Regions from separate parts of the Homo sapiens genome. Here regions 2, 3, 4, 5 and 6 are each reported to be linked to region 1. The links are microRNA targets in miRTarBase. Many come from high-throughput screens and were not tested one by one. Region 1 holds a microRNA gene; each other region holds the end of a gene's coding sequence. Distances are between the middles of the regions.

Region 1 (4,108 bases):
TCAAGTGATTCTCCCTCCTCAGCCTCCTGAGTAGCTGGGACTACAGGCACGCGCCACTGACTTGGCTAATTCTTGTATTTTTAGTAGAGATGGGCTCTTGCCACGTTGACGAGGCTGGTCTCGAACTCCTGGCCACAAAGGATCCATCCACCTCTGCCTCCCAGAGTGCTGAGATTACAGGCATGAGCTACCATGCCCAGCCTCAGACTTAGTTTAAAAGAAAAAGAATTAAAGTGATTATACCTGAGACGAGTTTCCACAAACATTTGTTTAAAATTTCACACTGGAAAGTTTTTTTTTTTTTTGGAAAGTTTTATAAGCCATGTCATTGTCTCCTCTTCTTTTTTTTTTTTTTTTTTTTTTTTGAGATGGAGTTTCACTCTTGTTTCCTAGGCTGGAGTGTAGTGGCACGATCTCAGCTCACTGCAATCTCCGCCTCCCAGGTTCAAGTGATTCTCCTGCCTCAGCCTCCTGAGTAGTTGGGATTAGAGGCATGTGCCACCACGCCCGGCTAATTTTATATATATATATTTTTTAGTAGAGACGGGGTTTCTCCATGTTGGTCAGGCTGGTCTCAAACTCCCGACCTCAAGTGATCCGCCCGCCTCAGCCTCCCAAAGTGCTGGGATTACAGGCGTGAGCCACTGTGCCCGGCTACTCTTCTTTTCACTATTTAGAGAGCAAGATGTCTAGGGAATTTCACTGAAGTGATTGAGGTGGGTGGGGATTCCTTGGTGGAATAGCCCTCTGGACTCTGAGGTGGATCATATGTATGTATTAGTAAATATAGCAAACTGGTTTAATTGATACATCCTGATAATTAAATGGTACATAGGTTGACTGGTCAGTAAGTTAGGTTAAATAAATATGAGCTTTGTCAGAAAAACACAAGTTTTCATTAGGTATATTTATGTTTTATTTACTCAATACATTTACATGGTAGTGTTACAGATTATCTTCTGTGTACCTGCCATTGCGTTGGTTGCGTGGTGTTAGTCGATTTCTGATATTGAAGTAGCACAGTCATACAGAATATTGGCCTAAAGAAATGACAGACAAACTCAGCTATATTGTCTGTCAATTCATAGGTCATTTTCCTGTATACCATTTCTGAATGATGACTTTAATCCTCTTCCATTATTGGATCTTTTTGGTGTTACAAAACTTGAATTTAAGAAAATTGATATTAATTCTTAATCATTTGTTAATTTTATAAAACAGGCTGAAAATCTTTTTTTCTGCTGGAATCAAATGAGAGTCCAAGTGACCACAATTTTCTGTCTTTCTTTATTATACCTTTATATTGTAGCAAGTTGGTAACCATCAAAAGTAACAGCATCTCCACTGGAAATTGGTACACAGTCCACATGGAGTTGCTGTTACACTTGATAACACCATTAAACATATAAGGAGATTCCTTTTGCTCATCATGGGAGCTGTACGATATCTCTAAGTATACTTGTTTCACAGAAGAAAGTCTCGATTTATTCATGTTCTAAATAAGTTTAGGGACTGGTAGATTTGAAACGCTGATGTTTTATTTTGATTTGAATTAATAGTGTCATTTGCATTTTAGATCATATTTGTATTTTATCAAGAAATAATTCCATTTCTGACTTTACTGTCATTGGTCATTTTTTGAATCTGTGAGATAATGCCATTAGAATTTGGGTTGAAATCTGTTACTAGTCAATAAAAACAGAAGAAATAATTTTTAGCATAAAAAAGATAAAATGTAGAAACACTGGCTACCTGGGAAGGAAAAGAAGTTGGTTAAATTTCTTTCATCATTTCAAACAGTTATAATCACTTTCATGCTATTAATGCTATAGTTAACATAGTGAAACTTAGCCCCTAACTTCTGGAAATTATGAGAAATTTAGTAAAAATAGCCAAGGAATTTCCAATATAATTTGAGTGTTAACTTTAGCTACCTCAAATTTTTTCTCAGTTAACAATAATAAACCTTTTGTTCAAAAAATTTATGTTCATTAAATAAAGAAAAATTTCTTCAAAATGGTTTTCTGTCAGCTTTAAAACATAAATCTAGGATTAAACTAAAAATAGAATTTCCCCTTCCAAATTTCACATTGTTCTAGAATTAAATTTAGTAAACAAATGTGAAACATTTAGCCTCTTACCTCATTCTTCTTCCAGTAAGTTACAGAAGAAAAGTTGTCTTAATAATCTTCAATATTTTTGCTTATAAAGGCAAAACACAGAAGACAGTGGGATGACAGCAGTCGTTTCTTTGTTGCTTTAGTAATCTTAATGCTGCTTAATGTCCATAACACGCTAAATAAGCCTCATTCCGGTTGATATCGAAGTTCAGAATGATTGGCTGATGTCATAGTTGCTCATGCTACCTAGTGGATTTTCACTGATTGAAACCTAAGAAGGGACACGTAATGCATGTGTTGAGATAAGGCCTTTGAGTAAAGTACAAGGTTTTATGATGGATTTATTGCTTTATGAAGTAAAGCATTAAGATGGAAGCATATAGATTACATACTGGTAAGTGGTTTCACCCACTTTTATCAGCAGTCGTTTATACTGATCTTTGGGTTATAGGTTAACTATGAGTTTGTGTTAAGTATACAATGTTAAAGAAATGAAGGTAGAATTCTTAAATTTCAGACAAATTAGGAATTTTCCTGCATTTTTTTCTGAAGAATATTAAATATCACAAGGAAATAGTTAGAAAATTGTTTAAAAATTTTTTTAGGAAACAGAAAATTATTTAAGAAATCTTTTAAGTATTATCTTGGTTTCATTATAAAAAAATTCCACTTCTAAGTATTTACCCAAAGGAAATAGGACTAATACCTCTTGTGTGAGGATATGTATATAAGATGTCCAATACAGTTGTTTATAAAGGAACATAATGATATACAAAAGAAGATGTAATTTAATTAGTTATAGAAGAATGAATATGTACCTGTTAAAAATGTCAGCTTAGCTCTTAATGGTTGCCTAGTTCCTTGTGTATGAAAATCAAATGAACATAACTTATCCAGTGTTTGGATTTTGTTAGATGTTTGTCACATCTCTATAATGAGTGTCTTTTGAGCACTTGTTCACAGTTAACTTTATATACTTTTTTCAAATTATCTTTTTAGATTTTGTTTGAACATTAAGTTTATCTTTGTTTTTATCATCATTATACCTAGCTCAAGTTTGTGGGTTATATGTCTGTTTATTTTTATTGCAATTTTTGTTTTCAAAGCTCTCTGTCACACTTTTTTTTTTTTTTTTGAGTTGGAGTCTTGCTCTTGTTCCCCAGGCTGGAGTGCAATGGTGGGATCTTGGCTAACTGCAACCTCTGCCTCCCAGCTTCAAGCGATTCTCCTTCTTCAGCCTCCCAAGTAGCTGGGATTACAGGCTTGCGCCACTATGCCTGGCTGATTTTTGTATATTTAGTAGAGATGGGGTTTCTTCATGTAGGTCAGGCTGGTCTCGAACTCCCCACCTCAGGTGATCCGCCCGCCTCGGCCTCCCAGAGTGCTGGGATTATAGGCGTGAACCACCGCGCCCGGCCTTTTTTTTTTTTGAGATGGAGTCTCACTCTGTTGCCAGGCTGGAGTGCAGTGGTGCAATCTCGGCTCACTGCATCTTCTGCCTCCTGGGTTCAAGTGATCCTCCTGCCTCAGCACCCCCCAAGTAGCTGAGACTATAGTCACGCACCACCATACCTGGGTAATTTTTGTATTTTTGTAGAGACCGGGTTTTGCCATGTTGCCCAGGCTGGTCTTGAAGTCCTTAGCTCAAATGATCCACCTATCTCAGCCTTCCAAAGTGCTAGGATTACAGGTGTGAGCCACCGTGCCCGCCCAAAATTAATTTATTCAATTGACAAAAATTGCTTATATTATGTACAACATGTTTTGAAATATGTATGCATTGTGGAATGGCTAAATCTAGCTAATTAACATGTATTTGTTGGGTTTTTCTTTACTCTCTTATTTTAAAATTAACTTTATTGTTTTAAAAATACAAATAATTTATCTAGAATCTCATAATAGAACCGAATTATAGAACATAATGCTTACTAAAGTGCATTTAGTAGACTTTATTTAGAACATGATGTTTTCATAATTCACAATATAAA
Region 2 (4,108 bases), not on the chromosome of region 1:
TCAAGAGTGTTGGCTGACTATAGTTTTCTGTTCTGTTTTTTGTTTTTGTTTTTTGTACTGACAAATTTGGCAAAACAAGGTAGGTGAGGCCTAGAAAACAAGTTACTTGGTTTTCATACGCCACAGAAATTTCCAGAAGTCAAGCTAAAGAACAGACTAACAATGAAAAATTAACATCCCTTTCTTTTAGGCAACCAATGAAACACAGATGTGCTACGCCTCACTTGATCACAGCGTTAAGGGGAAGCGTAGAAAGCCCAGGAAACAGAATACTCATTTCTCAGACAAGGATGGAGATGAGCAACTACATGCAATAGATGCCAGCGTTTCTAAGACCACCTTAGTAGACAGTTTCTCCCCAGAAAGCCAGGCAGTAGAGGAAAACATTCATGATGATCCCATCAGACTGTTTGGATTGATCCGTGCTAAGAGAGAACCTATAAACTAGCTGGACCATGATCTAGTTCAATGATTTGGCTCCTATTGAAGATGGCTTCTAAGAAAACAAGATGCACAGAGGACACAGAAGGACTTGGCAGCAGGGTGATGACCTGATCATTTGTTGATGGGATGGTGGCTTACCTCTTATTCACAGCTTACACTTATGCATGCCAAATGTAAGGCCATGAAAATCAGTATTTCAAATAACTTAAAAAATGCTTTACTACTAAAATGTAAAAAATTAATGTGCTCACCTCGGCAGCACATATACTAAAAATTAATAAGACCCAGCTTGAAAATTGAGCCTGATAACAAGATTACAAATTCACAATACCTAATACTTAGGGAAATATAAAAATTTAAGCATGAATGTGTTCTGGAACACGTTAGAAGAAAAATAAAAGCCAATGAGTTTTTTTTTAATTCTCCTTTCTCACCAATGGGCAATAGCCCATAATTGAAATAAATTTCTGATTGAAAGGTATAGGAAACATTAAAATGCATTACTAAGAGAAGTAATATAATTTTCTTACAAAGTATTTTTCCCAAAGATAGCTTTACTATTTCAAAAATTGTCAAATTAATGCATGCTCCTTACAACAAACAAATATCAAAAAGAGTTTAGGAATTCTACTAGCCAGAGATAGTCACTTGGAGAAACTTTCTATATATCCTTCTAAATATTTTTCTGGGCATGCTTATGTATGTACATCAGTTGTTTCTTTTTATTTTGAACCAAAAATGTGGTTTCTTTTGTACACATTACTTAAACTTTCTTTCCAGTCAACAATATATTGTGGATTTATTTTCACTGTTATATTTAACTATATATAAATACGCATATATTGTAATTTTAATGTCTGCTTAGCACCCCACTGATAACCAAATCACAGTTTATTTAAATAATTTTAATGACTTTTCAAAAACAATTTATTGATGCAAAAAGCAAGGTTGAGATGACAATGTTTCTTTCAATAATTAAAAAATACTGCTTCACTGTCTTCTCTCTGTTTCATCAGAAACACATACTATAATACTTGTCTCTGTCCTTAAGTGTGATACACGCTATTTTTCTGATTGTTAAGACTTTCCTTATTACTGGTTCTAATTTGATTATAATATGCCAAGGTATGGTTATTTTTCAAGTGTCTTGTGTTTGGAATTTGTGGAGCTTCTTAGATCTATGTATTTATATTTTCATCAAATTTGGGTGGGGGAAAATGACCAATATTTTTTTTTCTGTGACCCTCCGCATTTTCAAGTTTTTCAATTACTTGCAAATGGTCCCACATTTTACTTATCTGTTTATTTTATTTCATTCTTTTTTGTATTTCATTTTGGATAGTTTTTCTTGCTACATCTTCAAGTTCATGAATCTTTTTTTTCTAAATGATCTAATCTGCCATAATCCTAGACAGGACTTTTTAATCTCAGATAACTTAGTTTTTATTTCTATAAATTTAGTTTGGGTCTTTTGTCCCCCATATTTCATGTCTCTAACGTACTTAATCTCTCATCTAACATCTTCAACCAATGGATACAGTTGTAACAACTGTTTTAATGCTTCTTAAAATCTACTAATTCTGTTATCTGTCATTGTGAATGAGTTTCAAGTGATTTATTTTTCTCATTATGGGTTATATTTTTCTGCCTCTCTAAATGCCTGATGATTTTTAATTAGGCAGAAAATACTGTACATTTTCCTTTGTTTGGCAATGCATATTTTTGCATTCTTATGTTTTTGAGCTATGTAGCTGAAAACTAACTTGATAGTTTGTTTTCAGTGACATAGCTAACTGAAAACTATCAAGTTACTTGAACACAATTTGATCATTTAGAATCTTGCTTTTAAATTTTGTTAGATTAAGCCAGAGCAGCTTTTAGACTAAGTTAAATTTAGTTTATTACTGAGGAAAGATCCTCGTTAGTACTTAGTACCACCGTTCATGAATTAGGACGTTTTCCACTTTGGCTGTTGATAATCGACACTATTCCCAGCCATGTGTGAGTCATGGGCACTGTTTTCTTTATTATTTTCAGGTGGGTTTTTCCCCAAGTTCGGGTAGTTTTGTCACTTGCGTGCACTGACCAGTACTTAACTGAATACTTGACGGCGACTCTTCACATATCTCCAGAGTTTTCTCTACACGCAGCTCTCTTCTCTCCAGTATTCTGCCTTTTTGACTTCTCTTGACCTGGAGCTCCATCTCCTCAATTCAAGAGATCAATGGTCTTTTACCTAGGTTTCCTCTACCTGCTCCAAGGCCTGAAACTTTTCTCCAGGCAATAAGATAGGATGATAGGAAGGTTTACCTCATTTGTTTCCCATCTTTCAGGGACCGACCTTTGTCCTTCATTGCCTGAAACAGTATGTCAAGTAACACTGTTTCATCTACTTTGTCTGGAGTTTAGTTGTTTCAGCTGGCAGAGTATGTTCAGGTAGTAGGGTAAATCTAGGATGTTATTCTATCTTTGTCAGAAGCAGAAATCCAAGGCATTCTTACCACTTTACTGTAATTCTATAGTATATTTTTAGTGTAATTTAGTATAATTCGATAAGCTAAGCAGGATCATTTGAAATGTGAGTAAGCTATGAATTACTGATCATCATGTAATTATTAGGGACTATATATACATCACCTTTGGCAGTTTTCAGGGCTTATGTTCCAGAAGGAATACAGGATGAATATCCTGTATTTGGAAACAGAAGTGTTTCTGATTTTTAGATTTTGGAATATTTATTCATATGTAGTGAAGTATCTTAGGGATGCGACTTAAGCCTAGACAGAAAATTCATTTATGTTTATATACACATAGCTTGAGGGCTATTTATGTAATATTTGTAAATAATTTTGTGCATTCATCACATAATGTCAGGTGTGGAATTTTCCACTTGTGGAGTCATGGCACTCAAAAAGTTTTCCACTTTGGACCATTTTGGATTTTGGATTTTCAGATTATGGATCCTCAGCCTGTATCATTATAAGCCTTAACATTTCAACTGGAAAAAAAATATGTACGGAGGAAAAGAAAAAGAAAAATCATGACTAGAAAACAGATGAATTCCAAGTCTTGAGATTTTCACTGACAATGTTTTAAAGGTCCGATAAGTTGAACTCAAATCTCAAAAATAGGAGGGATAACTCATTTCCTTTTGGTATTAAATGGCTTATTTCTAGCAGAGTAAAGGGAGGGTGATTAGTTTAGACATATGCTTTAAATCTTCCTCTGAGGTTTTGTCATTTGATTAACAGAACAGACAATTTATATTAACACAGAAAAACAGAGCATTGACAGAAAGGAACAAGACAGAATATAAATTCAACAGAGGTACACTTCTAAATGCTATTTGCCATTCTTTAACCTCTTCTGAAGGGCTCTTCTGCACCCACTCACAGCTTCTACTACCTAGGAAGTCATGCATCAAGGGTGGGTACCTGAATCACGACAGTGGATTCTCCTTTTTTTCAGTTTCAATAAAACTTTTTTTACAAAATCAAGCAGGCCAGATGTAGCCTAGGGGCCATAGTTGGCTGACGCCTGGCAAGATCATTTGTTTCATTAGGAGCTTGCAAAATGATATGCTAGTCCTGTTATTCCTTCTTCATGTATTAGTTGGAATACATTATAGGAAGAAGACAGTAGATTCATCTTTGAACCAACCTAG
Region 3 (4,108 bases), 120 Mb from region 1:
CACTTTAATTCCAACCTCTAGGAGTACAGCAAGAGCCTTTTCCTCCTCCCAAACACCCATCCCTTGCTTTGTAGAGCCTCATGGACCAGCACTGCCACTAAGGCTGCGCTCCTGCCCCTTTGGCCCTCTTCAGGGAATCCTGCTATCCTAAGGGCCGTGCACACTGTAGGGAACAAATCCTTTGCTGAATTCTCAATGCATGAGACCAAAGAGAAGATAGTAATACCCAAGGGTTGGAATAGAACCAGATAACTTAAGGGTTATTTGGGAATAGAGTATCTTGAGCCATTGATGCTGGACCTACATACTTACTTATTTCAGAACTCCCTTCTCCTGGTTTTTCTATTCTTTAAGTGAGGAGGACATTTTTATTGATCATGTCATTATTCATTTAAAACTCAATAAATGCCTATCAATAGATAATTGGTTAAATTATGGGACATCCATCTTCTGATCCTTCCAGATAAGATCGGTAACCTTTACTGGATGGCTCATAGCATCTGGGTTATTACCTACCAAGAACAGTGTTTTATGCAGTTATTTAATATCTGTCTCCTTACTAGACTGTAAGCCCAATCAAGGAAGCATGAAGGTGGCTACTGTATGCTTAGAACCATGATTGGTATGGTAGATGTTTAATGTTTGAATGTATAATAAATGCATACAATGGAATACTATGCAGACATTTATTTATTTATTTATTTATTTAGAGACAGAGTCTCGCTCTATCACCAGGCTGGAGTGCAGTGGCTCAATCTTGGCTCACTGCAACCTCTGCCGCTGGGTTCAAGCAGTTCTCCTGCCTCAGCCTCCCGAGTAGGTGGACTACAGGCGCCTGCCACCGTGCCTGGCTGATTTTTGTATTTTCAATAGAGATGAGGTTTCACCATATTGGCCAGGCTGGTCTCGAACTCCTGACCTTGTGATCTACCTGCCTTGGCCTCCCAAAGTGGTAGGATTACAGGCGTGAGCCACCACACCCAGCCTATGCAGCCATTTAAAGCATGACAATGTGGAATTGTTTATTGACATGTAAGGTTACCCATAATATAATGTTAAATTTTAAAAATCAAATAATAAAATAGTAGATATGCTATGATCATGTTTTAACAAAAAAGAATAGCCATACATACAGATAGATACATCAAAATGTTAATAGTGGTAAGATTATGAATGACTTTTTCTTTTATTGGTTAACTCTTTGTATTATCTGAAATTTTACAACAACAGCATTTATTTGACCTGTTTTTTTTATTTTATTTTATTTTTTAGAGACCAGGTCTCACTCTGTCACCCATACTGGAGGATAGTGGCACAATGACAGCTCACTACAGCTTTGAACTCCTGGGCTCAATTGATCCTCTTGTCTCAGCTTCCTGAGTAGCTGGGACTATAGGTGCACACCACCACACTTGGCTTTTTGGTTTTTTTTTTTTTTTCTGAGACAAAGTGTTGCTCTGCCACCCAGGCTGGAGTGCAGTGGTGTGATCTCTGCTCACTGTAACCTCCACCTCTTGGGCTCAAGCAATTCTCCTGCCTCAGCCTCCCAAGTAGCTGGGACTACAGGCGTGTGCCACCAGGCCCAGGTAATTTTTTGTATTTTTACAAAACTGTAGAGATGGGGTTTCACCATGTTGGCCAGGGTGGTCTCGAACTCCTGACCTCAGGTGATCTGGCCACCTCGGCCTCCCAAAGTGCTGGGATTACAGGCGTGAGCCACCAGGCTAATTTTAAAAATAATGTTTTTTGAGATGGGATCTCACTATGTTGCCCAGGCTGGTCTCAAACTCCTGGCCTCAAGTGATCCTCCTGCTTCAGCCTCCCCTATAACTGGGATTACAGTTACAAGTCATCACACCTGGCTGATTTATTCTTTCCTGATTTTAAAATTATTTCCATTTTGAGAAAAACCAAGTAGATATTAAAACAACCTTTTTTCTGTCACAAAACTTCACTTAAACAACTAATTTTGGCATACAGTTTTCAACTGGACAATATTAGAAACAACATGGATTTCCGAATGCAAATTGAAATGTTGGATACATTCATCTCGTTGCTATTTCTGATTAAAGTAGACCTTTAACAAAATGATCATTATGAAACCTTCATTTCTATACAAAATTTCTTATTTTTTATATCCATAATTACTATTAGACTCTTCCTTCTCCTCTTATTTACATTCTTACCCAGGATATGGAGAATGGAATAGACCTTAATTTCTTATCCTATTTTTTAGCTGAAGACCAAAAAAGTTAAAAGGAAGTAGACTTCTCAAATTTTTTTTAAAAAAAGAAATGTCAGTGGCTGCTACATTTAAAGTACCTTCCTTACATGAGGGAAGTTTGCAAAGGTGAAGGTCTTCCCCAAGAAAATACCAAAGCATTACCACAAATCTAAAACTATATCCATTTTAAACAAACACCTTTAATAGACTGGTTATAAAACTATAATTGGACAATTTTAAGGCCAGTTTATACTTTTCCCTTTTCAAAGACATTAATTAATATAAATAAGACACTATCAGATGATATTCTCTATACAGAGCAAGAATATACTCTTGGATATCTCAAAAGAGAAGTATAATTGCACTTATTTCATACAACAATTAGCATAATAACGGAAATGGAAAATATTTTTGTATATAAATTCCATTTCTTAATTAAGTAAAATTAAAGTTTCATTAAGAGTCAGTTAAAAAAAATAGGGCATATACTGTCTGTATATGGCTACCTGTCTTTTAGTAACATGAATTTTGTTTTTTTGTTTTTGAGATGGCGTCTTGCTCTGTCGCCCAGGCTGGAGTGCAATAGCACGATCTCAGCTCACTGCAACCTCCACCTCCCAGGTTCAAGCGATTCTCCTGCCTCAGCCTCCCAAGTAGCTGGGATTATAGGTACCCACCACCACACCCGGCTAATTTTTGTATTTTTAGTAGAGGCCAGGTTTCACCATGTTGGCCAGGCTGGTCTCAAACTTCTAACCTCAGGTGATCCGCCCACCTGGGCCTCCCAAAGTGCTGGGATTACAGGCGTGAGCCACCATGCCCGGCCTAATTTTGTTAATCTTGCCAGTTTCAAGCCATTGACACAAAAACATCAGCACCATATTAAGAAGTCACACTCTGACCTATAAAATGTGACAGCCCCAGGAGAACCATTACACCATTATTCATTTTCAGTAAAAAGTCTAATAGAACAGTGACAAATATTGTGCCTTAGATCCTTAATCATACGATACAAATCATTTACAATATAAATTGTAAAGATGAACATGTGCTGGCACAGCTAGGGTTTACATACTCTTTGGAAGCTCAAAAAGTTCAAGAATGTCTTATCAGTCTTCATTTCAGATCTAGTAGCATAAAAGCTGGGTTTTCTAAATAGGATTTCCACAAATTGGAGAAGCGTGACATTGTAGCACCATCAATAACTCTGTGATCAGCTGACCAGCTCACATTCATTATCTGTGCCTTATATACTTCTCCTTTCTGGTTAAATCGGGGAATGGCCTAGAAATGAAAAAAAAAAAAAAAAAAAAAAAAAAAAGAACAAAGAGTAAACCTTCACTTGTTCAGAGCTCAAGCTCTAACAATGGTGTAAGATCAGGCAAACCCTTCTTCCTGTACAGTACAGAAAAAAATGGGCATCCCCAATGACTTTTGAAAATGCTGATTCCTACTCTTCCCATCTTTGAGTATATGCCTGGAGCTTACAGAAGTTCTCCAAGGTACTTCCTATCCCTTGTACAATTCCCATACCTACATTCATTAACTTTCATCTCAGATTTCAAATATTTAATAATTATTTACTGTATACCCACTATGTGCCAAGTATTCTTCTAGGCTCTGGGGAGAGACAGACAATTAAATAAGGCTTCCTCACTGAAGGCAGTGAGGAAACAAGCCATTATCAAGTTCCCCTGACCACTGAGTTGGCCAGGAAGAAGACAGGACAACAACATGCTTGTGTTCTTTGTGGATATTAAAGCTAGTAAGCACCACATCAAACAGGCTGGAAGCTCTATGACACTGATGCGGCCAAGGTCAACACCTTGATCAGGCCCGGAGAGAGGAAGGCATATATTCCATTAGCTCCTGATTACAATGCTT
Region 4 (4,108 bases), not on the chromosome of region 1:
GGCCAGTCAAGGTCAATCAGCCTCCAACCAATCTGCTCACTAACCACAAAGGTGTGTGGAGTCCCAACTGGCACCCATGGAGCAGTGGTGGATCACGCCAGCAGAGCTCTGCCCAGACTGCCAGAGCATAGGATTATAAGCAAATAAAGGGTGTTGCTATAAGCCGTGATTTGAGGTGGGTTTTTATTTTTATTTTTTTTTAAGCCATGATTTGAGATGGGTTTTTATTTTTATTTTTTTTGAGACAGAGTCTCACTCTGTCGCCCAGGCTGGAGTGAAGTGGCACAATCTCGGCTCACTGCAGCCTCTGCCTCCTGGGTTCAAGCAATTCTCCCACCTCAGCCTCCCAAGTAGCTGGAATTACGGGCGTGCACCACCACGCCCAGCTAATTTTTTGTGTTTTTAGTAGAGACGGGGTTTCACCCTGTTGGCCAGGCTGGTCTCAAATTCCTGACCTCAAGTGATCCACCCGCTTCGGCTTCCCAAAGTGCTGGGATTATAGGCGTGAGCCACTGTGCCTGGCCAGGTTTTTATTTTTTATTTACTTATTTATTTTTTTGAGTTGGAGTCTCGCTCTGTTGCCCAGGCTGGAGTGCAATGGCACTATCTTGGCTCACTGCAGCCTCCACCTTGTAAGTTCAAGCGATTCTCCCACCTCAGCCTCCCAAGTAGCTGGGATTACAGGTGCTTGCCACCACATCCAGCTAATTTTTCTATTTTTTAATAGAGACATGGTTTCACCATGTTGACCAGGCTGGTCTTGACCTCCTGGACTCAAGTGATCCGCCTGCCTCAGCCTCCCAAAGTGCTGGGATTACAGGCATGAGCCACTGCACCCCACCCTTGAGGTGGGTTTTTAGACAACAATAGAGAGCTGACACACTACTCTGTGGCAGGAATTGTGCCAGGTGAAGAAAATACCCTGGATACTAAGACATAGCCCCTGTTCTGCAGATGCTTAGAGTCTACTTAGGCAAACAGACATGTAACAGGGGAATTTCAAAGTAAATGTCATCAGTGCTCTAACGGGGCATAGGGAGGACTTAAGGATCCATGTAAATTTAGAGAAGAGGCATCAATCCTAGAACTGGGGAGCTGGTGAAGGCTTCTCAGAGGAGATAATTTCTAAAGGGAGTTTACATGAAGAAAGAATTTTCCAGGCAACAGTAAGACAGAACATTCTTCTTTCCACGAAGAAGAAAGTACATGTGCAAGGGCTGGAGGGAGTGAGATAGGGTCCCCAGGAAGGTAGGGGTAGTCTTTTTAATTGCTGTGTAAAGATGTCAGGGGTGGGCTGGAGGAGTAGCTAAGGGAAAGCTCTCATGGCCTTTGGCTTTTGAACTTAGGGTGATGGGAACCAAAGAAGGAAATCCTCTCTCCCTTCTTTCCTTCCTTCCTCACAGCCAAGAGGAGATCGTGTGCAATAGATACAGAGAAATGCTTCTCTGGTGCTTAGGTTGGCTGAAGGGAAGTTCTATTATGCCAGGGTCCAAGATAATGGGTAAAGCAGGCAAGAAGAAGATACCATTTCTCAAAAGGAGATACCATTTCTCGAAAGGTATTCCTTCTTCTTTTGTCACTTAATGAATACCTGAGCACAGAAAGCATTTAAGACTCATCTTTTAAAGATGCTATAAAAAATTTTTTTAAGCCAGTGGTAAGGTTTCCCACTTTATTAGTTTTGTGGCCTTGGGCATATGACTAACCACTTTACAAGTCAGTTTCCTCATTTGTAAAATGGAGATAATGACCGTATTGACTTCACAGGTAAATAAGGACAAATGGCGTAAAGTCTTAGCATACAGCCTGGCTCAGAATAAACCCTCAATATAAGGTCCTTAAATGGGGAAAAGTTGAGGGGAGTAACATGGGATTTAGCGTTAAACCTGTGTTTACATTCAGCCTATTTCACCTAGTAGTTCCTGCAGCCGTGTGAATTTAGAGACCATTTTAAAACTTGCTCAGGCTTAGTTTCCACATCTGAAAAATGTGGACGTTAATATCTACCTTGCAAGGTTGCATTGAGGGTTAAAGGATATCATATATATTAAATGCACAGAGCCTGCCATACAGTACAAATGCACACCCACACAGAGGTGATAGTATTTCTCAAATGTATATCAACAGTATTACTGTTAGACATTCTCTGTCACTCCAAAATCCTATTCTCTGACTAAAGCTACAAATCAGAAAAGTTGGATTACCAGAAATATATATATATATATATATATATATATATATGTCTATAACATATTTAGCACGGTAGGTCCATTCCACCAGTACCTATACATTACGATAACCTAATGAAAAGAAATGGCTGTGGTACAATTCTCATATTTTATTTTGTTAATGCATGATAAAAAATTAACGTCATCATTCAGATCCATTATTTGGAATGAAGAATTTAGTATTTCCTGACTGCCTAATTTGGCACTTTGAGGAATTTCCTCTGCACGCTGAGCCCCAAAATGCACTATTTTCTAGACCAAAAATGAAAACGTGCGTATATACAAGTGAGCTGAAAAGTTACAACACAAGATGATCATTTTGGTGAAAAATAATCCCCCCAAATAAGCAGCATGTCATGTCCTTAGAATATGTTACACTAGAAAGCTAGTAAAAATTCAGGCTAAGGAGGCAATTTAGAGTTCAAGTTTTATCACATATCAGCAAAGTTTTAGCCTTCCCTTAAAAACAGACACCTTCAAAGTGAAATCTTGCCAGAAGGGTTGATTTTTAATTATGTGTATATACAAACTTCTCTATTTTAACATTCAACATATTCAGGATTAATTCTAGAAAGATGCTATAGCTGATTTATAAAACAAAATGATTTAGGATCAGAAAGAAAATAGGGGCACACAATTTCATGTAGTCTCTCCCTAACTACCCCCAACCATAGCATCACAAGGTTTTTTTTTTTCCTAATGCCACAATTGAAACCTGTATTAACTTAAAAGTTGACACTAAAGGCAGGAATTAAGAAGTCATTTTTTATGGCTTTTAAGCACTTGAATGCTTTAGAACCCCCTTGAAAATGCTAGTGAACAGGTCTTATTCCTTTAAATGTTGCTTTGATTTGAATCTTGGTGAAATCTAGATTCCCTATTAAATAGCTGCATGCTAATTTTGGAGAAAGTACAATTTAAAACCTTTAACAACTACTCTATTGACTCTGAAGAAGGGGACTTTAGCATGTCGCTGTTTGGGCTAGAGAAGCATTTCAACACCTTTCTGCAAACTAAGATAAAAAACAATGAATGAGAGCTACAAATAGAAATCTAGTAAGGCAGTTCTATCATGTAGGAAAATGGTTTCCCAAATGTTTTCTACACTGACATTTTTTAAAAAAGATATGATACCCGGTTCTTCCACATTCAGTGTATAAAACTCAACTTTAGACATGTATGTGCGGAGAAGACTCGTATGTCCAAAACCATCCATTTGCATGGCAATCTTGTCTTTGCATTGCTTTGTGTCATTCTGGCTTCCCTCACCCACAGGCCACTGGAGGGCTGGGAGGCCCAGGAGCTCAGCACTCTAACTCCTCCATGACTTCCATGACAATCGTCCGTGGGCCCGTCAGAATCAGATTGCTCACGGTCCGGTAGTCTACATGCAGGACATTGAGCCCGTTGACAGAGACGACAAACTGACAGACCTAAAGGAAAGATGCAAAGAAAGAGCATCTATTATAGCGCCTGGTTTTGCACAAAGCTTTAATAAAGACAGTGTGTAGCCCTAACAGGTAACTTCATTCTTAAAATATCCAAATGTATCCAGCTGACGACTCCAATTCAATAATTTCCAAGGAGCTACACATTTTCTGGAAGGCAGTATAATTTAAAAAAAAAAAAATCGTTTTAGTGTTTTACAAAATTTGGCTTAAATCCTAACTCAGAGACATACTAGCTTTAGCTAGTATTTAAATACTAGCTAGGTATTTAAATTTCTGAGCTTTATTTCCCTCAACCCTAAAATAAGAATTAATAATAATAATAAGAGTAATACCTACCTTATAAGACTGTTGTAAGAATTAATGACATATATAGTTTCTACTTGCAGTAATTCACAGGCATGCTTGCTCCCAATTATTAATTATTAGTGT
Region 5 (4,108 bases), not on the chromosome of region 1:
ACCATTGGCAGGAGTCTACAGTGCTCAGTGCTCCTTCTCGGGGTGTTCCTCCCATCGACACTGACATCTATGATTAATGTTTATTTCATGAAAGGACATTCATGACAATGTATAAACATCATCCAGAATCCCACCACTCCAATCTATTTTGGTTTACTCTCTTTCATCCAGGTCTCTTCAGTGTGAATACATAACATCATGTGGTTGAAATCATAGCCTGGATCCAGGCTCAATTCCTTTTCTGGGTGAAATGGTTTGACATTGTGTCATCCATGATAGCATCATGGTAGCACCGTAGTTTACTGGAGTTACTTGAATTTTAGGTTGTTTCCAGTTTTTCACTATCCCAGCGCTGAATTAAACAACATTGTCCTTTACAACCTTTTTTTCTTGTGGATTACTCTCACTTTTCTACTAACTTCTCAGGAGTGGAATTCCTGGGTCAAAGAGCATGGTGCTTTTTTTAGCTCTGCATCCTTGAGTCAGATGGGTTGTATCAATGTATGTACTAAGCCCGTTTTCCCGTGTTCCTGTGCCTTCTAGGTTACCGAGGAGACGAGCCTCGTCCTGCAGACCCTCGGATACACGTGCACCTGTCGAGGAATAATCAACGTGAAAGGAAAGGGGGACCTGAAGACGTACTTTGTAAACACAGAAATGTCAAGGTCCCTTTCCCAGAGCAACGTGGCATCCTGAAGAGTCACCTTCATTTTGGCAAGAAGACTGTATTTTCAGGAAGGTATCACACACTTTCTGACTGCAACTTCTGTCCCTTGTTTTTGATGTGCGTGCTGTCTGTCCTATGGAGCCTCTGCAGACTCGTTCTCGTGACCCAGTGGCATACCGTTTGGTGTCTGATGTGTGCCCAGATCGTTCTGCCACTTGCACTGTGCTTGCTCCTAAGCAAAAGGGAAAAGGAGCGCGCGTGATAGAAGAAAAGCACTGGGAGAACTAACAGAGGAGAAAGGTGAAACACACACACATTCTTAAGGCAATAAAACTAGGGGGTGTATATTATCTTCTGGTGCATGTTCTTTTCTGGAAAATATGGTAGCTCGCCAACCGCATCTGCTCATCTGATATTCAAACACACAGTATTCGTGAATAAGTTGATTCTGTCCCCCACGTGGACTCTGTGCTCACCCATTGTCTCATTGCCAGTGGTGTCCAAGGGCCCCCGTTGGGACCCACGGCTCTCGTCCCTCTGCTCCGTGTGTCTCATGCCAGCAGCACGTCGCCATCCGTCACCAGAATTAGTCCTCACAGCCTAGGACCAGTTTTGTATCAAACTCGTCTGATGTTTTGATGCCATTTGTCTTTTGTAAAGTTAATTCATTAAAAGTTTTATGTACTTTGATTTACAGTGCCTGTATCTTTTATTTTCCTGTCTTCTTTCTCCTGTGGTTTGCTCCAGAATTAAGGTTTGTTTTCCATCCATTCTCCCTTTTGACACAGTTGTTTCAGAAAGAGCTCTCCAGAAGCCAATATTGAGATGTAATTCAGATTAGGACACAGTGTGTGACGCAGATAACTGGTTACTCAGCTCCCTGGAAAGCAGGCAAGCATGTTGAATGTATCTAGTGGTCTGATTTTAATTTGGGCATCTCTAGAGAACGCTTTCAGGGAAAAATACTTTAATAGTAAAAAGATTCTCTGCGAGCAACAGTGCCCCCTCCGTCCACTACGCTCCTGTCTCCAAGAATGTTTTGCTAGAGCTAACAGACATAGACTGCAAAAGAATAATTTGGAATCAGCTATGCAAATCAGTCTCACAATAGCGTGAGCTAACTGAGAGAAGTACTAAGACCCACAAACTGCCTGTTAAGTCTGAGAAGGCTAAAGAAGACACACAGCCAACGTTCATGCATTTTTAAAGACAGAAGGCCTTGAAGAATTTGTTCTTGTAAATCCAACACAAGTTGTTTGGTACTTTTAACATAAAGAAATCATACTTTGCCAAATAGTGAAAAGTAGAGCAATCGTGTATAAGCTAATGTTTAAAAGCAAAACTGCAAATTGTAGCCCAGTTGGTCAAACTTGTTTTCTTTTTATAACTCATGGCAGGCATCTGTAAGAAGTAGAGAACCCAGATGATCTCTTAGGAAGCCTTTTATTCGTGGGAACTCGAACTTGAAGCACAAGTTCCTGGTTTGAATCCTGGCTCTGATTTTTTACTGGCTGTGTGACTTTGAACACATCTCTTAGTCCCTCTTAGGAGTACTTTCCTTATTGGCAACTTATGGACTCGCTAGTGATTAAACGAGGCAATGACTGTGAGCGAGCCTGGCAGGTGCCCCGTGGTACATTCACAGCACGGGCACAGCTGCTGTGCCAGGACTGTGACTCATTCCCAGTAAAAGGCACTTATCGAAGCTGATAACCGTCCTTCATCACCGAAGTGTGAGTAGAGCATGACTTATTTAGTATTCTGCCTCAATGGGGAATTTTTTGATCCTGTAATCACAACTCAGCATTGGCCTTAATATACCTAAATCTCCAAAAACAGTGATTAAAGCAAGAGAATTATTACAAGGGCTTTTCTCTTTCCTCTAACTCATTCTTCACGGATGCCGTAGCGTTTCCGTGAGCTCAAACTGGCCTTGGTGTAAAATGTGTAAGGATGAGCAGCAGGCGTGCCTCGTGGGTTCTTCCTCTGTTACATCCTGCTACACTCATCCGCAGGTCACCTTAGTTCACCTACCCTGAGTGAACACCCCCAGCTGGGTGGTCCACCAAGTTCTCATAAACAGAGTCCCTCCCATTCCCCCACGGGGTGCACCGAACTTGGGTTTGCGCTAAAAAGAACTCAAAAGGAGAACTGTGCTCTCCCAAAGCCATATCACCAGTCTTACCAAACAATAGGCTTTTAAAAGCATTGAGTCATTGTCAGAATCCACTATGGGAAGCTCTGTGTGTACCTGGTCCCTTCTAGGTGTGGTCCCATAGGAGCAGCCTTAGCATCCCCTGTGAACTTATCAAAAATGCAAATTCTCAGGCCCCAACCTGAAGGAGGACCCTGAATTTGAGATCCCCGGGGCTGGGGCCCAGCACAACTGCTGTTTAGTGAACAGGTTCTCCAGGTGATTCTGATCCCTGATCAAGCTTCAGACCTCCCTCCCTCCCCAGTGTTTTTGCAGGTGAGGAAACAGGGGCAGAGTAATTCAGGCACATGTGTTCAGAGTTCCACAGTTGATTAGCAGTTGAGGCCAGGCTAGAATGGAAAACTGCCTGTTCCTTGAATCTGAAAGAGCATTATTCCTGGTCAAAGCTCCTTAAAGTTCTGGGCAGCTAAAAGCATCCCTGTGAGCAAAAATGCCAGGCAGAAAACTGGCAGTGCACCTCTCATCAGCCCAGGTCCCAGTGCCATTGGCTTCAAGAAAAAAAAAAAATCTCTCCCCAATGCTCTCCTTAACCTTTAAGTCTTACAGGAAGCCTCTCATAGAAATTGCCTCCAGTCCAGTTTCCCAAAAACCCCAGTGTTTTACATATCTGTTTAGGAGTGTCTAAGTTTTGTCATCAATCCAGGATGTTATTCTTCCTTCCCAACTCACTGTGCTCCTAAAGGCAGCAACCATTCATCTTTCCTTTGCTCTGGATACACCGAATGACCAGGTAACATCATCAGGCCGGGTGCAGTGGCTCCTATAATCCCAATATTTTGGGAGGCCGAGGAGAGAGGATCACTTAAGCCCAGGAGTCTGAGACCAGCCTGGGCAACATAGCAAGACCCCCATCTCTGCAAAAAAATAAGAAAATTAGCTTGGCATGGTGGCACGTGCCTGTAGTCCCAGCTACATGGGAGGCTGAGGTGGGAGGATCACTTGAGCCCAGGAAGTCCAGAACGTAGTGAGCCTTGATTATACCACTGCACTCCAGCCTGGGTGACAGAGCGAGACTCTGTCTCAGAAAAAAAAAGAAAAAAAAGAAAAAGCAACATAATTGCCCAGTGATGAAAATTTGATAAACCAAAACAATCCATTAATATAAGAAGATATGATGTGTGATGGCTTTAACAAGCATTCATGCATTGGCTTTAAATGATAAACATTGGGATACCGAGAGAAATATACTTCATTTTCTCTTATGGCCTAACAAATGTGAGATCTTT
Region 6 (4,000 bases), not on the chromosome of region 1:
ACCCGCCCTCCATCCCAGCCCCGAGGTGGGTCCGCCACCTCTGGACAGAAATCAAAGGGTACTGGGTCATGTCCTGGTGCTTTTTGTCAGCCGGGTGGATGGCGCGCGCCCGGGGCAGCACGGGGGAGCCCGAGGAGGAGCCTTGATTGTGGCGCTTTCGGGGCTTTCTGGATGCTGAAGCCCTTCGGCCGATTCCTTCTCGGAGATTATCAGGAAGCGGGTGTGTGATAGATTGCTCGTGGTTACAGGAAACAAAGCACCAGGGAAGGAGGTGGTCTAGCCACACTCCCATCGCATTTGACAACGTAGGGGTAGAGGTGGCTTAGGCTGTGAGTGTCCTGAGAGTGCAAAAGTTGTTAATCTAAATGGAGTCACTTGTGTTAAAAAACAGAACAAAAAAACCCGGACACAGCCCAAGAAACCCATGACAAGAGGGTTCTCGTGCATAAATACCTGATAATGAAAACTATCACAAAGACTCTGCAAAAACCACAACCTTGCACAAAGGGCGTCACAACCTTGCACAAAACATACTTTTGAATGGCCATCTGCCCAGCAACCGCTTGTCCAACCTTGAGCGGTCACCCTTGTTATTAATCCTTCTACCTAAGGATAAATATTTCAAAACAATTATGTAATCCTATTTTTTCCCTTAAAGCCTGTCTTCCTTTACCTCCCTGAATACCCATATAGTTTACTATGGCATGGATACTACCATTGCAATGCCCTATGCCCAAATAGATATCATTTTCTTTGAGAGAGCCTCTCTGTTATTTAGGCTGACAAAGGCAAGGACCATTATCTTAAGCCCTGGGCCCGGATGAAGGCAGAGTGGCCGTCACACTCCAGCCAGCTGCAGCCCCATTGGAAGCAGGCCTCACCTCTGAGGTTTCAGGTCCTTGTGGTCAGCCCCTGCCCTATGTACACCCTCTGAGGCAGGAGTTTCTAACTTAGTCTGGGTACCTAGGCCCCAGGACCCTCACCAAAGCCCTTTGGCTTCTCTTGGGAGCCTCTGCAGCCTGGGAAGTGCATCTTACCCCTAGGTGCCCAAGGGGTTTCTCTGCCTCTTGCTGGACAGAGCAGCAAATAGGAGCCCAGAAACAGGGAGGATGGAAGTAAGCTCCATCCCTCCCTGCCCAGGAACTGCCCCAGACCTTCTCTAGAGGTTCGCAGGCAATCAGCTAGATGGGGATTGCTGAATCAGATGGGCCACCCCATCTTCCCTCATTGGTCTTCTCCCTTTTTTTCTTTTTGAGATGGAGTCTCGCTCTGTCGCCAGGCTGGAGTACAGTGGTGCGATCTCGGCTCACTACAACCTCCGCCTCAGATTCAAGTGATTCTCCTGCCTCAGCCTCCCGAGTAGCTGGGATTACAGGCACGCACCACTGCACCCAGCTAATTTTTGTATTTTTTTTCTGAGACAGTGTCTCGCTCTGTCACCCGGGTTGGAGTGCAGTGGTGCGATCTCAGCTCACTGGAAGCTCCGCCTCCCAGGTTCACGCCATTCTCCTGCCTCAGCCTCCTGAATAGCTGGGACTACAGGCACCCGCCACGACGCCCGGCTAATGTTTGTATTTTTAATAGAGACGAGGTTTCACCGTGTTAGCCAGGATGGTCTCGATCTCCTGACCTCGTGATCCACCCGCCTTGGCCTCCCAAAGTGCTGGGATTACAGGCGTGAGCCACTGCGCCCGGCCTAATTTTTGTATTTTTAGCAGAGATGGGGTTTCACCTTGTTGGCCAGGATGGTCTCGATATCTTGACCTCGTGATCCACCTGTCTCAGCCTCCCAAAGTGCTGGGATTACAGGCATGAGCCACCGCACCCAGCCAGTCTTCTCCCTTCTTAAGGCCTCAGGGAGGGGCCCTCCTTGGGGTGGAATTCTCAGCCCTTGGTAGGTCTTACCTCTGCCCAGTCTCTGGCACACAGTAGATACTCAGTAAATATTTATTGAAGGAATTCTGCCCAGAGATGATTGCTATTCTTGCCTAGGAGCAGGTGAGATGAAAGTTTCCTATGCAGAACATTCATTGATACCTTTTTTTTTTTTGGGAAGGGGGGACAAGGTCTCTGTCACCCAGGCTGGAGTGCAGTGGTGTGATCACAGCTTACTGCAACCTTGAGCTTCTTGGCTCAAGGGATCCTCCCACCTCTGCCTCCTGAGTGGCTTGGACTACAGGCCTGTGCCACCATGTCCAGCTAAGTTTTAAATTTTTTGTAGAGATGGAGGTCTCCTTATGTGGCCCAGGGTGGCCTCTCAAGTGATTCTCCCATCTTGGCCTTCCAAAGTGTTGGGATTACAGGCATGATCCACCACACTTGGCTTTTTTTTTTTCCCTTTCCTTAATTTTTCTGTAGAGACAGGGTCTCTATGTTGCCCAGGCTGGTCTTGAAGTCCTGGTCTCAAGCGATCCTCCTGCTCTGACCTCCCAAAGTGTTTTTTTTGTTTGTTTGTTTTTTGAGACGAGTCTCATTCCATCACCCAGGCTGTAGTGCAGTGGCGTGATCCCAGCTCACCACAACCTCTTCCTCTCCAGTTCAAGCAAATTTCCTGCCTCAGCCTCCCAAGTAGCTGGGATTACAGGCGACTGCTACCACGCCTGGCTAATTTTTGTATTTTTAGTAGAGCTGGGGTTTTGCCATGTTGGCCAGGCTGGTCTTGAACTCCTGACCTCTAGTGACCCACCCATCTTGGCCTCTCAAAGTGCTGGGATTACAGGCGTGAGCCACCACACCCAGCCTTTTTTTTTTTTTTTTTTTTAAAAAAAAGACAGGGTCTTGCTGTGTTGCCCAGGCTGGCCTCAAACTCCCAGGTTTGAGTGATCCTCCCACCTCAACCTCCCGAGTAGCTGGGATTACATGTGCGCACTGCCATCTCCAGCTGATATCTTTTTTCTTTAAATGTTTTCAGGAAGTGGGCTCATTACGGGATGCACACAAAACCTGGTGGATACTAGCACCAAAAGCACCTATCTACCAGCCCCACCTCCCTCCTTTTCCATTCAACTGAGATGGAGCAGACAGGATTTGGCAAAGTCCATGCAAGCACTCTCCCTTCAGAGCATGTGGTATTGATGGCAGCCAAGTGTAAGACTGGGTGGGGAGCCAGAAGGAAATGGAGTCGTCAGGATGCTCACCGAGTCAGACTTTTCAACCGGAAGAGACTAGCTCATCCAAACCAACCTCCTACGTTTTCTTTTTTAAAATTAAATTTTATTATTTTGCTCTAACAAAGTAACCTCCTACTTTTTCAAGGCTCAGAGGTGGTCAACAATTTGCCCAACTCACATGGCAGATAGTGGCGGAGTCAAACAGGGCACTCAGGTAGGGCTATTCCAGCCCAGAGCCGTTTGCTTGGCCTGCAGTACCGCCTTTGGCCATAAGAGCCACTCATGGCTGGTCCTGGAGGAGGCAGGACATCCCCAAAGATGCTTATTGACGCCAGCTGGACGTGGCTGGCGGGAAGACTGGCACCTGTTCATGAAAATAAAATCTCCTGATAAGGTTTTCTTGCGGAGCCTGGTTGAGCCTGAATCAACAAACAACATCCTGAACCTGAGCACCCCTTGCTGAGCTAGGAGGAAAGGAAGGGTGAGGGGAAACGTACTCCAGCTCTGTTTGTCAGCTTCATTAGTTCACAGAGTTTATGACCTGCTGCAGGGAACATTTTTGTGTGTAATTCAAACACATTCTGTTTTATCATTCCCTCGGTACCCTGCTGGGACAAGAATGGGCTGATGACAGCCAGCCCCTGGGTGGTGACTTCAGGGAAAGGCACCAGCAAGATGTGTGTGTGGGGAGCTTGGACCGCCAGTCACAGGCACAGGTGTACGGGGAGCAGGGGTGAGTCCAGCCAGCCACTTACCCCAGGGTTGACACCAATAACACGGCAGGGAAAAGGGGGGCCTCTGGAGGACAGGAATGGGGAGTAAAAGAGCTTCCCTTGCAAAAGCAGCCCCATTTTCACAACAGTCTTCGGGCTGCCTGGCAAGCCTTCCTC

What was found. Region 1 holds the annotated microRNA hsa-miR-215-3p (UCUGUCAUUUCUUUAGGCCAAUA, at 1,034-1,056, opposite strand). A microRNA usually pairs through its seed, bases 2 to 8, with sites in the 3' UTR of a target mRNA and lowers its output. Matches are read on the target gene's strand: a 7mer-m8 pairs with bases 2 to 8, a 7mer-A1 pairs with bases 2 to 7 and ends in A, and an 8mer does both.
Region 2: the mRNA of TRAT1 is a reported target of hsa-miR-215-3p. The part of its 3' UTR that is shown has no 7-base or 8-base seed match.
Region 3: the mRNA of DBT is a reported target of hsa-miR-215-3p. Seed matches in the 3' UTR shown: 7mer-A1 at 1,938-1,944 and 7mer-A1 at 1,287-1,293.
Region 4: the mRNA of DEPTOR is a reported target of hsa-miR-215-3p. The part of its 3' UTR that is shown has no 7-base or 8-base seed match.
Region 5: miRTarBase lists ADCY2 as a target of hsa-miR-215-3p. Seed matches in the 3' UTR shown: 7mer-A1 at 3,883-3,889.
Region 6: miRTarBase lists SLC16A5 as a target of hsa-miR-215-3p. The part of its 3' UTR that is shown has no 7-base or 8-base seed match.

What each region holds. Positions count from the first base shown.
Region 1 is chr1:220,116,844-220,120,951 of GRCh38, forward strand. It overlaps MIR215 (microRNA 215), which reads right to left and starts at 1,119; the gene lies at 1,010-1,119. The region is part of intron 12 of IARS2 (isoleucyl-tRNA synthetase 2, mitochondrial); the gene reads left to right. It overlaps MIR194-1 (microRNA 194-1), which reads right to left and starts at 1,398; the gene lies at 1,314-1,398. It overlaps LOC124904515 (a long non-coding RNA gene), which reads right to left and starts at 2,270. Exons shown (of 2, transcript XR_007066883.1): 1 at 2,142-2,270; 2 at 899-1,040.
Region 2 is chr3:108,853,430-108,857,537 of GRCh38, forward strand. It overlaps TRAT1 (T cell receptor associated transmembrane adaptor 1), which reads left to right. Exons shown (of 6, transcript NM_016388.4): 6 at 191-1,576. The coding sequence ends at 448. Among named protein-coding and RNA genes, the nearest start is that of TRAT1, 33 kb to the left of the region's middle.
Region 3 is chr1:100,192,915-100,197,022 of GRCh38, forward strand. DBT (dihydrolipoamide branched chain transacylase E2) reads right to left here. Exons shown (of 11, transcript NM_001918.5): 11 at 1-3,508. The coding sequence ends at 3,341. It also overlaps the pseudogene RPL23AP90. Among named protein-coding and RNA genes, the nearest start is that of LRRC39, 17 kb to the left of the region's middle.
Region 4 is chr8:120,049,129-120,053,236 of GRCh38, reverse strand. DEPTOR (DEP domain containing MTOR interacting protein) reads right to left here. Exons shown (of 9, transcript NM_022783.4): 9 at 2,319-3,661. The coding sequence ends at 3,533. Among named protein-coding and RNA genes, the nearest start is that of COL14A1, 74 kb to the left of the region's middle. RefSeq lists an enhancer at 3,912-4,108.
Region 5 is chr5:7,826,176-7,830,283 of GRCh38, forward strand. It overlaps ADCY2 (adenylate cyclase 2), which reads left to right. Exons shown (of 25, transcript NM_020546.3): 25 at 544-3,906. The coding sequence ends at 696. Among named protein-coding and RNA genes, the nearest start is that of CFAP90, 23 kb to the right of the region's middle.
Region 6 is chr17:75,105,354-75,109,353 of GRCh38, reverse strand. SLC16A5 (solute carrier family 16 member 5) reads right to left here. Exons shown (of 7, transcript NM_004695.4): 7 at 3,192-3,474. The coding sequence ends at 3,321. Among named protein-coding and RNA genes, the nearest start is that of ARMC7, 2.6 kb to the left of the region's middle. RefSeq lists an enhancer at 3,664-4,000.